Regions from separate parts of the Homo sapiens genome. Here region 2 is linked to region 1. The links come from fine-mapping of genetic effects on gene expression. Tissue or cell type: whole blood. Region 1 holds a variant in brackets; the other region holds the start of a gene. All regions are shown on one strand. Distances are from middle to middle.

Region 1 (5,360 bases):
TGTGTCACTTTGAGGGCCTGTCTCTGGGGACCCCCTCCTAGTATGAATTTATGTATCAGTTGGGGTCTACTTGGGAGATGGAAACCACAACAGTGATTCTAATAGCATGAATTTAATGTGCAGAATTTTTCATTAGTTCTGGGTAAAAACAGCTCTAGGGAATCATGGAGGTTGCAACCACAAAATTCAGAGAGGTGACCTGGCTGGCGACACTGGTGATAATGGTCACCTGCCATGCAGCCTTTCAGCTCAGGTGGGCACACTCCTCTGCCCCTGCCCACTTCCTCTCCCAGGTGAATCTTGACCACACCTGTGCCTGGCACTGTGCACACATTCTCTGTTGTTCAACTCTGCGATCAATCTGGAAAAAAAAGAAAAAAAAAAAACCTTTTTAGGAGAGTAAAAGGAAAATAAATCTTGGGGCCCCAAAATCACTAAGCCAAAGGGAAAAGTCAAGCTGGGAACTGCTTAGGGCAAGCCTGCCTCCAATTCCATTCAAAGTCATTCCCCCGCTCGCTGAGATAGATGCATATCTGATTGCCTTCTTTGGAAAGGCTCATCAGAAACTCAAAAGAATGTAACTCTATCTTACATGTGTTGATTGATGTCTCATATCTCCCTAAAATGTATAAAACCAAGCTGTCCTCTGACCACCTTGGGCACATGTCAGGACCTCCTGAGGCTGTGTCACAGGTGTGCATCCTTAATTTTGGCAAAATAAACTTCCCAAATTGGCTGAGACCTGTCTCAGATTTTTGGAATTCACAAGTGAGGAGGCAGAGGCTCCAGCTACTGGGGATGGGCTGGTGGCTCAATGACACAGATTTTGGGGCAGCGGGACCACTGGGCCCCTTCCCTCCTGCCCTGGATACCCAGGGCCTGACTTCAGGAGGCAGCTGACAAGGAAGGTGGGGACCCCAGAGGCCCGGCTGTCGTCCCAGCAGCCGGAAAGAGGCTCACCCAGAAATGCTGGTGAGCCTCTTCTGACCTGTGCATCTTCTCTAAGTGGGGCACCTCATTCCTGCCCAGAGCGTAGCTGGGCAGACCTGAGGGAGAGGCCCTGCTCCCAATGGGCAGAGGAAATGCCCGTTGGGCACGTCTGGGGTGCACCAAAGCACAGGACCTGCCACCAGTAGCCTGGCCTGAGAGTGTGGGGCAGTCACAGGCAGGCGTCTCCAGGGCCTGAGGGCAGCCCCCAAGGCAGGGTGGACACGGCAACCTGGGTGAGGGCAGCCCCACAGCAGTGTGGACAAAGGCTAGTGCCCTCAAGGCCCACCCTGGCCCCAGGGCTGCTGCAGGAAGCACTTCCCTGACCCCCGTCCCACCTGCCTCCTTGGACCCCTGAGCTGGGGCTGCTCCTTGGATCTCCACATCCCACAGCAACCCAGAGAGTAGGAGGGGCAGGGAACACCCATTTTCCCCCAATCTCCCTAGGAGATGGGATTAATGTCCACCTCCGGGGTGCTGGGCTCTGGCTATGCGGGTGTCTGGGGGGACAATCCATGCAGGTATTTGCGGGGGATGGTCTGTGCGGGTGTCTGGGGGGATGGTCTGTGTGGGTGTCTGGGGGGACAGTTTATTCTGTGTAGGTTGTCTGGGGGGACAGTCTGTGTGGGTGTTTGGGGGCATGGTCTATGTGGGTGTTGGGATGGTCTGTGCGGGTGTCTGGGGGGACAGTCTGTGTGGGTGTTTGGGGGCATGGTCTATGTGGGTGTTGGGGGGATGGTCTGTGTGGGTGTTTGGGGGGCCAGTCTGTGTGAGTGTTTGGGGGCATGGTCTATGTGGGTGTTGGGATGGTCTGTGTGGGTGTTTGGGGGGACAGTCTGTGTGGGTGTTTGGGGGCATGGTCTGTGTGGGTGTTGGGGGGATGGTCTGTGTAGGTATCTGGGGGGACAGTTTATTCTGTGTAGGTTGTCTGGGGGGATGGTCTGTGCGGGTGTCTGGGGGGATGGTCTGTGTGGGTGTCTGGGGGGATGGTCTGTGTGGGTGTCTGGGGGGATGGTCTGTGTGGGTGTCTGGGGGGACGGTCTGTGCGGGTGTCTGGGGAGAGAGTCATCTGTGCAGGTGTTTGGGGCGGCTGGGTTGCACTGCCCTGGGCACCTGCAAATCTGTGAGTGTCCAGTGACCGGGGTAGGTCTCGGGGTCTGCAGCCTCCTTGGCCTTTAGCCTCCTTTCCCAGTTTCTCTTGTCTGGCAGGTGCCAGGCTAGGACCCAAGCCTCCTGCTGTCACCTAGAAGTAGGGAGAACCTGGGAATAAGGGGTCCCAAGTTTGGCAGCCCAGGTCACCAGGTGGCCTTGGGCCAGGCTGGGGGCTGCTGGGCTGGACAGGCCTGGGGTTCGGGAAGGAGGAGCATGCACAGGGCCAGCCTTGGGGAGTCGGTTCAGAGTCCAGGGAGCCCCTGCTGAGAGTAGGCCAGGCCCCTGCATCTGTTTCTCCCTCTGTGGATTTGTACCTTAGAGACAAGAACACTGTGACATCCAGAAAGGGCCTGCTGGCACCAGGGCTGTCGGGCAGGTGGGCTCGGAAAGGCTCTGGCCTCTCCCCATAGCAGGAGCCTCCAGCCAGGCTGGACCCTGGCCCACTCCCAGCTCCCCAGAAAGGGCGGTCCCAGCTTCCTGCTTGGCTGGCCTTGACATTGTTTCCATTTGGGCCAGCAACCCAGGCAGCCTGAGGCCAGACTGCAGCTCCTGGGCTGGTTGCTGGGCGTGATGGCAGGGGGCTGCTAGGACAGCCAGCGGGCCCCAGGGAGAGACTTCCCGGGCTCAGGGTGGTGTCTGGGATCTGATCCCAGCCTGGCTGCAGCTCGAAGCCTTTCTCCTCCCAGGGC[C/A]TGGCCAACCTAAAGGGCCATAGACAAAGCTTCCAACAGCACTCAGCGTGGGAGACCTGGCCGGGGCGGCCGTGAGGAGCAGTTTGCCGTGGGACCCCTAGCTCTGTGGCCCAGCCCTGCCCAGATGCCCTGACACATGCCCAAGGCCTGGGCAGGAGGACTCGTTCTGGGGATTCTGAAACAGAAGCTAGAAACCTCATCAGGCCTGGAGAATCAGACAGAGACTGCTCTGCCCAGAACCCCCGTCCGCAAGCAGGGCTGGGTGCAGGGCTCACACTCTGATCACTGCGAACCCTTCAGAAGCCACAGAGCCCTTCTGCCAGCTCCCCGGCCAGGGCTGCCCACCCTCTGTAGCTTGAGGTCTGAACCTCATGAGTTTTCTGTGGGCAGAGGGAAGCAGCCAAACCCAGGCTAGTATCTCTGGGTGGGACCCTCCTGGCAGCCAGCGCCCACCCCCTTCAGGACCACCCCTTCCCCTTGCACCTTGGCAAGATCCCCAGAACCCACCATCCTCCTTGGAGATTGAAGAGAAAGAACACCCAGGGTGGGGCCTTTGTAACCCCCCACCGGGTGGTTAGGGGCAGAGCAGAGGGTGTGGAGTAGGACAAGGGCCTGACCTTCCTCCCAGCAGCCCCTGGGGCCCCTTTGGACTGAAAGGTCAGGAGACAGAAGCAAGGAAGGAGGGCGGCTTGGGAGGCGGGGCCAGAGGCCCTGAGAAGGGCACCCATGAGGCAGGGCAGCCCGGGTGCCAAGAAGCTGCCCTCAGCCCCTCCCCCCATGCCACACCCCCAGTGGAACCTCCTGACTGTGAGCAGGAGTCACCGCCTCCAGGGAGCCCATGCCTGCATCACAAAGGAGGCCCAGAAGCCTTCAGGCAGCCTCAACTCAGCCCCAAGCCACTGCTCTCCCATCCCAGTCCCTGGAAATCCACCCACTTGGCCCAGCTCACCCCAACTCCAACCCACTGGGACCCAGTCTCCAGGGGCCTGACTGTGGGCGGCAGCCACTCCTGAGTGAGCAAAGGTGAGTTGTGCTGAAGGAAGGTACCCGGCCTGCTTTCCTGGGCCTTGAAACCCTCTCCAGGCCCTCTCCTGGGCCTTGAAACCCTCTCCAGGCGCTCAGCCCCTTTCTCAGGAGGCTGGGCAGGGCGTCCTGTGTGCAGTCTCGCCTGTGCCAGGGCAGGCAGCCCCCTCTGGCATACGGTTTATCTTACCCAAAGGACCCGCTGTCCCCCATCTGTAGTAACCTGGAGAGGCCACGAGTGTCCCCAGGGAGCCGCAGTGCCTTCGCCTCAGCAGACACTCCACACCTGCCCCGGGTACTTGGCTCAATTTGAAGGTGTTTATTTTGTGTGTGCCGTGGGGCACATGGAGCCGTCTGTGGATACCTGCAGGACAGAATGAATTCAGGACGCAGGAGCAGATTCATTAATTCTGACCAAAGAAAGAAGTTCGTGGAAGCTGAGCTCAGACTTGTCCAAATGATTGATCCATTCATTCATCATTCATTCATTCATTCACCCAACAGATAATGACCGAGGTCTCTGGGGTGGGGGTGCCAGTCTAGGTGAAGCGGCCCCCACAGAGGGTGCCCCTGCCCGTGGAGCTGACGTTCCCAGGGGGCTGCAGAAGTATCGAGGAGATGTGGAGGTGGAGCTGGGAGTCCCTGGAGAGACACAGAGCAGGGGAGGGGCTGGGGCTCCCCGAGTTGAACCCGAGGCCGAGCCAAGGAAGGCCCCACTGGGAAGGGGAGCTTGGCAGGAATCTGGGAGGCCTGCCTGGGTGGGTGGGGAGGGTGGGGGGAGAAACCTGGTGGGCCTGCCTGAGGGTAAGGGGAGGGCATAGTGAGAGGGGAGGAGGGCCAAAGAGGGTCCTGACATCAGGGCAAGGCCCGGCTCTTCCTCCAAGGGTTTGGCTACCAGGGGCCAGGGAGTGACGGCCTCTGATTCTAGTTACAGGCCCCTGGGCCCCTGTGGTGGGGATCAGTGGGTGAGACAGACCCCTCAGGGGGAGGTGATTGGTGGGGCCTGGAACAGGCAGCGAGTGGCAGGAATGAGAAAGGGTCCGACTGAGATGGGCTTGGAGGCTGAGGACTGGCGCGGGGTGTGGACGCAGGCAAGGGAGGCAGATGGCTCCAAAGTCCAGCTTCAGCCAGTGGCGGGATAGGGGTGTCTAGGGGCACAGCAGAGGGCGTCAAAGGAAGCATCTGAGGGTGTGTGGATGCATGAACGCTGCGGTTCACAGAGCCAGGGACTGAGAGAGGTGGCTGAGGGGACAGGAAGGGAGGAGCGAGGGACCTGGAGGAGAGGAGTGAGGTCCAGGTCCCCGTCCCCGCTCCTCACACAGCCAGAGGTCAGGGATCTCTGGAGGAGTCGCTGAAATGAGCTGGCCCAGCCACCTTTGCAGGGTGTTGCCCAGACAGGCTAAGGGACATCTAGGATCTCCCAGGGAGTCAGGGACAGAACTCAGGCAAAGTCCACAGCAGGGGGGCGGTGGGGTACAGGGGGGCGGAAGCACATTTAGCCCAGGTGCT
Region 2 (5,313 bases), 78 kb after region 1:
GCCGCATGGACAGGCTCTGCGCTCAGTGACTCAAAGGCCACCTCTGGGTCTGGTTCCCCTTTCTGTCTGCCTGGACTCAGGTGGGCACCAGCCTCCAGGTGACCTCTTCCCCTGAGGTCACAGGGGGAACCAATATCTGGAGGAGAAAGGGACAAGAAGCCCTGTGGGGAAGCAGCAGGCCCGAGTGCCGGCCGGAGAGTCCCAGCACCATCCCATTCCACTTTGCAGCTAGGGACGTGGGCACAGGAGAGGTCTGGGCACCCACCCCGGGCACCAGAGGAGCCAAGGACGAGGGATAAGGGTCAGTCGCCAAGCTCAGGATGGCCCACCTGGCGGTGACAAAGTGAGAGGTGAGACAGAGGTGGACGGGGGCCGGAGGCTGACCTCAAGGCGTCCCCTGCAGGGTGCATCCATGGAGATGGGGTTGGGACCTGGCCTGGGGCAGCCGGGGCCTTCCTGGGGCACTGTGGCCATGGAGAGAGGGTGCAGGGTGCGGGGGCATCCAGGCTGCCCAAGCGGAGGCTGGGCCGGCTGTGCTGGCCTCTTACCTGGGTCACACATTTGGCACTGCAGACACTTGCTTAGGCCATTGAGGTGGGCAATGTAGGTGCCTGGAGGGCAGGGTTCACACACTGTGCCCGTCAGCTCCCCGCAGGCCTCCTTCACACGATAACCTGCCGCCCAGAGAGTGGGAACTTCGCAAGTCTGCGGGAGGCCCCTTCGGGAGCCCACCCATCACTCCACCCGCGCCCAGAGCCCAAGCAGGGAGACACCAGCTAAGGGGACTCAAATGGCCCATGAGCCCCACGGGACACAGCAGCCCCATCAGCCATGAGCAGAGCTGCTCTGGGGAAAATCGGAAAGTTCTGGAAGCACATGGGGCCTCCTGGGACACCTGGCCCGGCTCTGGTATGTGCCCCCGAGCCCATGTCTCTGGCCACGGTGGGCCAGCCACGTCTCTCAGACCCACCCCCTGTGCAGTGTGACTGTGAGGGTCCCCCAGGGTGAAGAGTCCAAGCTGCTGGCCTGGGGGTTCTGCCCTCACTGTCTGCACACCTAGCCCCAGGGCTTCATCACACCCATGGCTGTGGGGGCAGAGAACACAGGGGTGTCTGGGGCAGAAGGGGGCAAGAGTGTCTGCCCTCGGCCCACAGAGCTGGCCCGCCAAAGGGCTGCACCTACCTGGACTGCACTTGGGGCAGCACTCGGAGCCCACTGGGTACTCGTCCTCCTTGCAGGACGGCAGAGCTGGGGCGTAGCAGGGGGCTCCCAGGAAGGTGAGATACAGCACCTAAGGGGGTCAGGACAGGCATTGGGAGATGCCCTGGCTGCCCTGTGGGCTCTGCCAGGCTTGGCCCCACAGCCTGAATCTCCCTCTGTGCAATGGGGAGGAGCGGCAGTGCCTGGTAGAGAGGACAGAAGCGGGCCCCAGGCCAGGCTCATGGAACAACCTTGCCGACCGCTGGAGCCCGGGATAGGGTGGGGACCGCCCCTCCTCCAGCCCTGATGACGCTGCCTGGCAGCGCGGAGCCCTGGGAACTGGAACTCTGCCCTCGCCAGGGACCCCACACCCCACACCTGGGAGCATTGAGCCCACTGGGCAGACAACCTGCCGGCCCCCCTGCTGGCCTAGGTTGGACCTGCTGACCCCTGAAGAGCCAGCAGGGGCAGCCAGGGATGGGCCCCAGAGGCTCACAAGCCAGACAGTGGGTGACAGGCTGATCAGGGCCACATCGGGGAGGGTGGCTCTGCCGTGGCCTCGTTCCTGGGCTGGCTGATGGGCAGTCGGGGGCCCCTGATGGGGATAGTGGCTGGACAGGCAGGAGTGCCACATGAGCATGGAGAGTATCCCCACCCCACCCACCTGGGTCCAGCCCCCTGCTGCACACTGATCTTATCACCTGTCACCAAGGTCAGGGCTGCCGGGGAGTTGGGTCACCTGCTCGAGGGCCCCGCCCAGAGACGCCCAGAGACACCCAGCCCCCAGAAGTGCCCACATCCGGCCAAATGGGGGCTCACCAGCTGCCCGTGGACGGAGTGGTGAGTGGGGGACACACGCAGGAGGAGGTCTGCTGGGTAGGGCTGTGGCTCTGCTGCTCACCCCACTGTGGTGAGCCCAGTGCTGGGGGTCTGGGTTGACCCGAGAGCCCCAGGCAGCAGGGGACGGGCTGGACGCCGGAGCCAGCAACGGCCAGGACAGGGGCATGGGGAAGAGATCTGTGGGAGGCCCTGGGGTCAGAACTGGGATCTGCGAGCAGACGGAGAGGAGGCTCGGGGGCTCACCAGCCTCAAGACGTCGGTTTTGGGGGTGGATCTCCAGGGAGGAGGCCCCCAGTCTCCAGGAGGCTCCATGCCTCAGGCTCAGACCGGCAGCTCGGGAACCCAGCTAGCAGGATGAACTCCAGCAGAGGAACTCAGCGCCATTGCTGCGGCTGTGGGCCAGAAGAGAAAGAGAAAGAGAAAGAGAATCCGCCTCGGTGTGACAAGCTGTGCCTCAGAACCCGAGCAGCAGGAGAGTGGGCAGCAGGGGGTGTCTGGCAGCAGAGAGGGGCTCAGGCCTGCTGGGTGGAGCGGCGCTGGGGGACACAGGTGGGCCCTGCGGGAGGCAGGAGCTGTCCAGGCAAAGCCGAGGGGAAGGGCCGGTATGAAGGAGGCGCCCGATGGGAGGGGCGAGTTCTCCCCCTGCACCATTCCAGTCCACTCCGGGTTTCCTGTAGAAGGGGGAGCCCCCCAAAGTCCATCTGTGTTTCCCCACCTCACTCACACACTCAGGGACCCTCGGCTGCTCCCCGGGGCGCTGACTGACATTTTTGCCGAATAAAGGGGCCCTGTGGGTTTCCTGTTCCCATCTCAGCTTCTGCTGAACAGGGTAAACTTCCCTTCCGAATAAAACCACCAGAATGCGGTCTGGCCAATTTCAGTCATAGACCCACCAGGCCTGTGTCCCTGCGTGAGGGGGTGGGAAAAGCCCAGAGTGCCCCTACCCGTCCCCTGGGAGGGGTGGAAGGGCAGCTCTTGCTCCCCCTGCAGAGACGCTGCGCGGACTGGGAAGGCTGCCAGCCTCGCCCGGTCTCCCTGTGGACCCTGCCCTGACCCCACCCCAGCTTCCTGGCTCCCTGCACCCCACTGGGCTTCCCTGCCCCACAGAGCCTGGTGGTAGGGAGACCTCCGGATGGAGACAGCCCACAGTCCCGGAGCCCCAAGGCAGGCACCAGTGAGTCCCTCGTGACGGCCTCGCTCCCTGCATCACATGGAACCTCGTGACCCACGTGACGACGCCAGTGCCCCCGTGGCCCCTTCCTGCTGCTGGACGTGATGCAGTCAATGGAAGCCCAGGTCTGTCACGCACCGCCTGTGCTTGCCCAGAGCAGGTCCCAGTCACCCCCTCTGGCACCGCCTGCTGCACACCAGGAACCCCCACCTCCAGCAAGCCCATCTGCCAGACGCCTGGCCCAGGACCGCCCCCTGCCCCTCGACTGCCCCCTGCCCCTCCTGGTCCTGACTTCAGCCAGGTGACCCCCTCCAGGGTCCAGCCCTGGCCCCTGGGGGACTCAGTGGCATCTGGTGGAAAGGACCTTGGGGATTGCGCCCACCCTCACCTGCAGGAGAGTTGGCAGGGTGGCCAGCCACAGGAATCTGTGGCAGGAGCCCGGGGACCTGCACCCCAACTAGAAAGTGTGCAGCCCTGCAGGCCGGCCCTGGAGAGGGAGCAGGCAGGGGTGAAGTTAGGCCGGCTGTGGTGTGCGACACCGTCCTGTGGGGCCAAGCGTCCCGAGCTCCAGAGGCAGGTGCACTCCTGGCCAGCATCCAGGGTGGACGAGCCCAGACCCCAATACTCTGAGGCAGGGTGGGGGACCAGGTGGCACCCAGTGGAGGAAAAGCCCCCAAGAGACACGCAGGAGCATGGACTCCCACCCCACAGCTGGAGCCTGGGAGAGGAGCCCCATCTGCTGTTTCCCTGGTGCACTCACATCCTGGCCCTCAGCGCCCCCTGCCAGGAATGTCCCCCACATGCAGAGCCATGTGGGTCTTGCAAGGAAGAAGAAGGGGGCCCCTTGCATCCTCCACTCCCGGGGGCCCCAGGAGGGCATGGGGGCTCCAGGGTGCAGGGACAGCACGTTCCCTCACCAACTCCCCAAGAACGCCCAACCTCCAAGAGCAGACACAGCGCCTACACCTGCCGGTACGGGGCTCCAACCCCACTCTCTCAGATACGTCCTCCAGAGTCGTCTCATCCACCCCACCCTGGGGAGGAGGGAAACTGAGGCATGGCAAGAGACAAGACTAACACAGGCATCAGTGAGACTCAGCCCCTCCTGCCCCTTCCTCCATGCCCCTCCTACCCCGACTTCAGCTCCCACACCAAGGCCCCAAGCCTGACATAGGGCCCCAGGTGCCAGGCCTCAAGGGGGCTGAAGGGAGCCCATCTGCCCCACCGAGGGCACAGACAGTGCCAGGTCTTTGCTGAAATGTCACCTCTTCCTTGAGGCCTTCTCTGATTGCTGAGTAAGCCCTGTCCCCGCTCCCTGCTCCCCGTATCCGCCCGCCTCGGCCCTCCGTCCCTTTTCTCCCTTCTCTGTGGCCTGCCCGCTCTCACAGAATGCAGACTCCAGGGGTCCAGGGTGTTACCTCCCGGGCAGCAGGAGGAAATGTCCTGGGCTCCCCACCCAGCGCTCAGCGCCCCCCGCTAAGTACAGCACTCACTCCTTCATCCATTCAGCGTGGGCTCTCCCGGCACCAGCACCGCCAGGCCCTGTGCAGGACCCCAGGGTCATCAGGAAGGAAATGAGGCAGCCCAAGGAGGCGGGAGACGGGGCCCTACCCAGCACCCAGCCATCTGCATTGACACGGCTGCCCGCAGGATATCACTGCCCCCATCCCGGGGCCCACCATTACCAGCAGGGAGAGGGAGGCAGGTGAGCACCCCGAGCCCCACGCCTCCTGTCGCGGGGACTCCCCAGACCCAATGCTGTGCCAGTGCAGGCCAGGCAGGGGGCTGAGGCCGAGGCCTGGTCATTGCCATCCTGGTCACGATCTGGTGAAGGATTTGAGTCCAGAAGCCAAACGTCTACAGTCGTGTGGTGCGGACACTCAGGATGGACTGCCCAGGCCATGGGGGGCTCTGAGGGATGAAGAGGAAACTGCGGGGGCGAGGTGGGCTGCGCGTCTCTGAGAAAGTGTGTGAGTTGAGTGCTGCTGCAGAGGGAAGCTGGGGTCCACCGCTGGTGAGCGGGGAGGGGACGGGACACAGAACCGGCCGTGGCCCACCCCGAGACGGAGGCGCAGACACCAGGCCCGTTCTGTGCTCTGGAG

What was found. PIP is the estimated chance that this variant, and not a neighbour inherited with it, causes the effect. A credible set is the group of variants that fine-mapping cannot tell apart.
Region 2: TNFRSF14 starts here. The variant in region 1 is the best candidate, but not a certain one, in a credible set for the expression of TNFRSF14 in whole blood (INTERVAL, PIP 0.52).

What each region holds. Positions count from the first base shown.
Region 1 is chr1:2,631,357-2,636,716 of GRCh38, reverse strand. MMEL1 (membrane metalloendopeptidase like 1) reads left to right here and starts at 3,701. Exons shown (of 24, transcript NM_033467.4): 1 at 3,701-3,851. It overlaps MMEL1-AS1 (MMEL1 antisense RNA 1), which reads right to left. Exons shown (of 3, transcript NR_183343.1): 2 at 4,042-4,215; 3 at 97-361. The variant C/A (reference allele first, on the strand shown) is at 2,829.
Region 2 is chr1:2,553,704-2,559,016 of GRCh38, reverse strand. It overlaps TNFRSF14 (TNF receptor superfamily member 14), which reads right to left and starts at 2,646. Exons shown (of 8, transcript NM_003820.4): 1 at 2,284-2,646; 2 at 1,183-1,291; 3 at 549-674. The coding sequence starts at 2,352. TNFRSF14-AS1 (TNFRSF14 antisense RNA 1) reads left to right here and starts at 2,006. Exons shown (of 7, transcript NR_037844.2): 1 at 2,006-2,040; 2 at 2,321-4,293; 3 at 4,721-4,916; 4 at 5,203-5,313.